Regions from separate parts of the Homo sapiens genome. Here region 1 is linked to region 2. Evidence: fine-mapped expression QTL. Tissue or cell type: whole blood. Region 2 holds a variant in brackets; the other region holds the start of a gene. All regions are shown on one strand. Distances are from middle to middle.

Region 1 (2,681 bases), 95 kb after region 2:
CTCTACCTACACCTCATCAATGCCACAACTTTGTAATACAGGACTGGGGGGCAACAAGGTTACCTCTCATGGAGGGTCTGACCAAGGAGCAACCTGGAAGAGGATGAGATGGGTGATTTCGAACAAGGGCACAGCCAGGGCTCCAGAAATGCTGTCGGTGATCTGGGGCAGGGGGCATGGCCTCTGTGGGGGAACCTCAAAGTGGGTGATGCTTGCGTGGCAGCACATGATCCTAGGCCAGCCACAGAGAGACTGAACTAGGGAAAAATCCCCCTTTGCCACCCATACCCTCTTACTGCCAGGGGCAGCCTTCCCCTAGCTAGGAGAACCTGGGGTCGACCCAGCTCTTAGACAGAGAAGTTACCCCCAAACCCTGTGTGACATGAGTGAAGATTTGGGCGTGGTAGCCCACAAAAATATTCCCCCTCCTCCTCTGTTGGACTCTACAGTTTCACAATCAGTGTTCTATTCCTTTGGCTTAAGATTTTTGACCCAAGTTATTTTTTTAATGGTGCCACTTTAAGTTGTTATCATGTATCCACACCTTAGTATGAATGAGTCAATCTGATCCTTTTCCAGGAGTCGATTTCGTTGTTGATAGAGATGAAGGAAGGCTTTAAAATCCTAGAGTCTAGGACAGTGGGGTGGGGGAGACTGGTGAGGGGAGGATCAGGATGCTGGGGCAAAGAAGGGGCAAAGAGAGAAGAGAGGAGGGCACAGAAGGGAGAGGGTGGACGAGCCTGGGAGGGATGGGGGCAAATCACTCACTTCGTGATTTGGGGATGGGGTGATCAGAGATAGCCTGAGCAGAGACCGTAGTACAGCCTTTTACCAACTCCCTCTCCCCACTTGGGTGCCTGGACCCCCTGTTCCTGTGTCTTCATATCTCCTCGATGCAACAGCCTGGAGCGCAAACTTTCTGGGATATGACCCCAGCCTGGCTTCCTATTCTGCCGTCGCCACCCGCAGCTGGACAGGACAGGGGCTCTTGGCAGATCGGCAGGGGCGCAGTCCTGGAGACCAGGACACTCTGGGAAGGGGGCGCGCGGAGGTTTAGGATCGAAGCGGCAGGGGCCGCGGGGCTCTGCGTCCAGGGCCGGGGCAAGGGGACCCGGCCAGCGGGAGGCTCACCTGCAGGACACGGTGATCTCCACCTTGGTGGCCGGGATGCTGCCCGCCAAGGAGTCGAACTCGCTCAGCGACGCCATGTCCTCAGGCTGCTCCATCGCCCACCGCACCCCCCACCCCAAATTAGTCAATCCCTGCGCGATTCACGCCTCCTCCGGAGCGACTGGAGCCCTGGGCTCTCCCCCAACTCCAGAGCCTGGGCTGGGCGGCAAGGGGAGGAGAGAGGAGCGCGAAGAGGGGGCGTGGGAAGTGAGAGAGGGAAGAGGGCGGAGGGAGCGGGGGCCGCGGATCGAGGAGGGGGCTCGGGTGACGCCGCGAGGAGGCTAGGGGCCCAGTGGGGAAGGGCAAGGAGCCCAGGGAGCGGGGGCACAGCGGGGAAGGCAGAGAGGGGCGCGGGGAGAGGGGCTCGGGGAGAGGGCACCGGGAGGGAAACGCGGAGTCGTGGAGAGGGGCACCAGGAGAGGGACGCGCGTCTGTGGGCAGAGGTAGAGGGGATGCAGAAGACAGGGAGAGGGGCGTGAGGAGCGGGAGGCGCCGGATGGGGCGCTGGCGGCGGGGGTGGCGGGGCGCCGGCAGCGCGGAGCCCGAGCGCCCGGGCTGCGCCGCCTCTCCCTGGGTCTTGGCGCCGGCGGCGACGGGGCTGAGACGCGGCTGCGAGCGCCACCTCCTCGGCTCGGGCTTCGGCTCCGGGGCGCCCGGGCTGCGGGAAAATCAAATCTGCCCGAAGCCGCAGCCTCCCGCCGCCCGGGAACGCCAGAGGGGGCGCCCGCAGGGGCCGGGGCGGGGCCGCGGGCGGGGTCTGCGCGCAGGGTGAGTGTGAGCGTGTGTGTGTGCGCGTGTGTGTGTGTGTGCGCGCGTGGCGGGCCGGGGGACGCGGTCCAGATGCTGGGGACGTGGCGGGTGACAGCAAGAGGTGGTCCTGGTCGCGCGCATCTTCATTTGCGCCCGCCCCCTCTCACCACCCCTATCTCCCATCAGGGGTCTCCATCCTGGGGGAGGGGGAGGGTTATGGGAACCAACGGGCGCCTTTTTGAGAAAGGTCTATGCAGGGTTGAGAGGGGGCATAAGTGGGAGGGAGGTGTGCAAAAAAGATCCCCTCCCAGGGGCTTGGGTGTGGAGGGTCTCTGCTGAGTGTGCGCCCTACTCGGGGGCGGGTCTCAGTTCAGAAACAGACCCTACATCTCCTTCTGGGGAGGTGTGTGGGGGCGACCCCAGTGCCAGGAGGGACTACCTCGGTTTCCCAGTGGCCCAGGTGGGGTCGGTGCATGGGCGCCTCCCCCATCCGTGGTTCCCGCCAGCCGCGGCCTCGCCAAGTCGGCTGCCGAAACCACGCGCCAGCGCCCTTCCACTCCCCCGCCCGTCGTGACCACACGACTGAGCCAGCCTCCAGGTCTAGAAGCTCCTGCCACCCAGTCTGGTGGCAACCAGACTGGGAGATCGGCCCGAGCTCCCTGGGCTTCTATGCAGCCAGCACCGAGTAGGCGCGTGCTGTGTGCCTGGCGAGCGAGGGGAGAGTTGGGACACCTCTCCTGCAGTCCTCTTCCCAGCCAAGC
Region 2 (2,681 bases):
GAGGACAAAGGTCTTTCTGCTCATTATATTTGCACCGTTCATGGAGATGCTTACATTGATTCAGTTAACCGAGCAATGCCTATTCTTGGAGAAGGCTGCAGCAACACTAAAGACACTGCCTCAGCCTTCAAGGGGCAGAAAAAAACCAGAACGAGGCTGACCACAGAGGCCTGGAGGCTGAGGAAGGGCTGGCAGAGGGTTCTGGCCTCTGGCTGGGCACCCGCAATGTTAGGAGTGTGTCCCAGATGTGACAGAGGGGGGCCCAGCCCAGACCACAGCATGGCCGAGGACTGACTCCTACTCCCTTCGGTGGTGGCTGGGCCACTTTGGGGCTCCCAGTGCCTCCCTTCTGGGCCCTTCACCAGGGAAGCCCCCAAAGGGGGTGTGAGGTCCGCCTGGCTAGAGGGGCTCTTGAATTTCCCATGGGGCAGGCAAGGCCTGGGCTTCACCTGGACGATGTCGCGTTCAGCCAGCTTCCCCCGGGAGGAGATCCGCACGTCGTCGCCATCCAGCTCCACCATGGCTGTGAGGGGAGGAGTGTCATGGGGCGGGGTGAGATTAACGGTGGACCCCTGGCCCTAGCAGGAGAGTGGACTTGTCCTTTCATCCCAGGCCAATCCAGGGCCGAGACCACTGGCCCATGCCCCGTGTTAGAGATGAGGAAACTGAGGCCAGGGGCCAGGAGGAGCCCGATCAGGTGAGCCTCTGACTTTGAGCCCAGTGCTTTGGTTCACCACCCTCCCCAGACTCCCAGGGCTGGAGGAGAAAGAAGTGACTTGGGGCCTCCTCCCCACAGCCTTGGGATGTGGGTGTGGGTGCACACCCAGACCTGACACACCCTTCCCTGAGCAAACAAATGCGTCCCACACCCTGCACACTCACCCAGACACACACGCCCAGGCGGGAGCTCTCACTCTTTTGGGAGGGGTCATTCCCAGGGGACCACAGCCTCTGGGGAAACATCTGGGGTGGGGGCAGGGTTGCGTGGCTAGGGAAGGAAAGGAGGGGAAGGCAGCAGCTGGACTCACCGTCGAACTCTGCCTGGCCCACGCCGACGATAATGATGGACATGGGGAGCTTGGCAGCCTGGGAGACAGCATGGGGGGCAGGGAAAGGTTGGACCCAATTGGGACCCAGTTAAAAGGAAGGAGAAATCAGGGGTAGGACAGGAAGGGGTGGGCAGGAAAGAAATGGGAGAGTGAACATGGAGAGACAGAGAAACACAGAAAAGGGGGTAGGGAGAGGGAGGGCACTCAGAGATAAAGAGCAAAGGAAACCAGGCTGCGCCTGGAGGAGAGAGGGAGGGTGGCAGGGGGAATGGGTCATAGGTCTGCTTTGGTGAGTCACCCCCATCCCCTCTTACAGGGAGACCACCGGCTTGGGGAGCCATGTTCCTGAGCTTCCCCAACTCTGAGCCTCCCCTCCCACTCCTTTGACCTGGCCAGGCTGGCCTGGGAAAGGGGGAAGCGGTCCTAGAGATGGGTTAATGAGGGAGTCATTG[G/C]GGTCTGGAGGGAGTAGACCAGAGCGTGACTAAGAGGTGGGAACAGAGCTCACCAGCCAGATCTCTCATGATCTGGGCACCCCTTCCACCCGCTAGAATCCACTATCCAGCACCGGACTCTGCAGCCAGAGGCCAGAAGGTGGATGAGGGCAGTGGGGCCCAGTGAGGCAGGGAAATGAGAAGCCACGCCCAAGTCATCTCCAAGCATTTCCCTAAGGTCAAGGAGGTAGGCACATCCCCAGGGTTCCCCTAACGGGGAGGAAGACACTCCTCAAACCGCCTCCCCCACCGCACACTCCTTGCTTACGTTGACAATGGCCTCCTTGGTCTGCGCCATGTCCGAGATGACCCCATCAGTAATGATGAGCAGCACCGAGTACTGGGAGCCATCCTGCACGGCCGCTGCATTCCTGGGTGGGGCAGGTGTGGGCTCAGGTCTGTCTGCGGGACCTCTGGGCATGTTCCCCCCTAAACAAGGACCCTGAACACTTTGGAGGGTGACAGCTCTTGGGGGAATCTCTTCAGGGTCAGGGCTCCCTGAAAGGCAAGTGCGTGGGAAGAGAAACCCCCTCCCACCACCCAGAGGCAGAGCTGGTGTGGAAACAGAGGCCTTGTGAGTGCCTGGAGGCGGTGGCAGCGGCACTCACCTGGCCACGTGGGTGACCACGGGGGCAAAGTTGGTGGGGCCGTACAGCTGCACAGTGCGCAGGCTGCGGTGGTAGGCCTCCAGGATGCCGTCGATGCCACAGCATGAGGGGTTCTCCTGGTTGCCATTCTGGGGGACAGAGGGCAGGGAGGCTGAGCCCAGGAAGGAAGGACAGGGGTGCACGATGTGTGGGAACTGAGTCCAGGTGGGGAGGCCAGCAGGCCTGGGCTCCCCCAGGTCTTCTCTGGTGTGGGGTGGCGGGGCAGGGGAGGGAGCTCCCAGGGCCCATCCTGAAGCAGTGCATGCTTCAGGTGAGCTGGGTCCAAACCTGCTCCTTACCCGGCTCCCTGTACCTGTTCAGAGATGCCCCAAGATCCCTGGCTGCTTCCCTCAGGGAACCTTGGGTAAATCCACTCTGCCCTAAAATGACTGCTGGGTCTCAGCAACTCAGGAAGGACCTGTGGCTGATCTGTCCACGTGCACACTGGGCCCAGCACAGCACCTTGCACCCTCAGGCATGGGAGGGACGTCTGC

The links. PIP is the estimated chance that this variant, and not a neighbour inherited with it, causes the effect.
Region 1: it holds the start of CPNE5, and the variant in region 2 is fine-mapped to the expression of CPNE5 in whole blood (INTERVAL, PIP above 0.99).

The regions. Positions count from the first base shown.
Region 1 is chr6:36,838,152-36,840,832 of GRCh38, forward strand. It overlaps CPNE5 (copine 5), which reads right to left and starts at 1,293. Exons shown (of 21, transcript NM_020939.2): 1 at 1,132-1,293. The coding sequence starts at 1,226. RefSeq lists a silencer at 1,757-1,966 and an enhancer at 2,651-2,681.
Region 2 is chr6:36,743,240-36,745,920 of GRCh38, forward strand. It overlaps CPNE5 (copine 5), which reads right to left. Exons shown (of 21, transcript NM_020939.2): 17 at 2,149-2,276; 18 at 1,809-1,911; 19 at 1,029-1,086; 20 at 450-523. Among named protein-coding and RNA genes, the nearest start is that of RAB44, 47 kb to the left of the region's middle. RefSeq lists a silencer at 1,694-1,894. The variant G/C (reference allele first, on the strand shown) is at 1,502.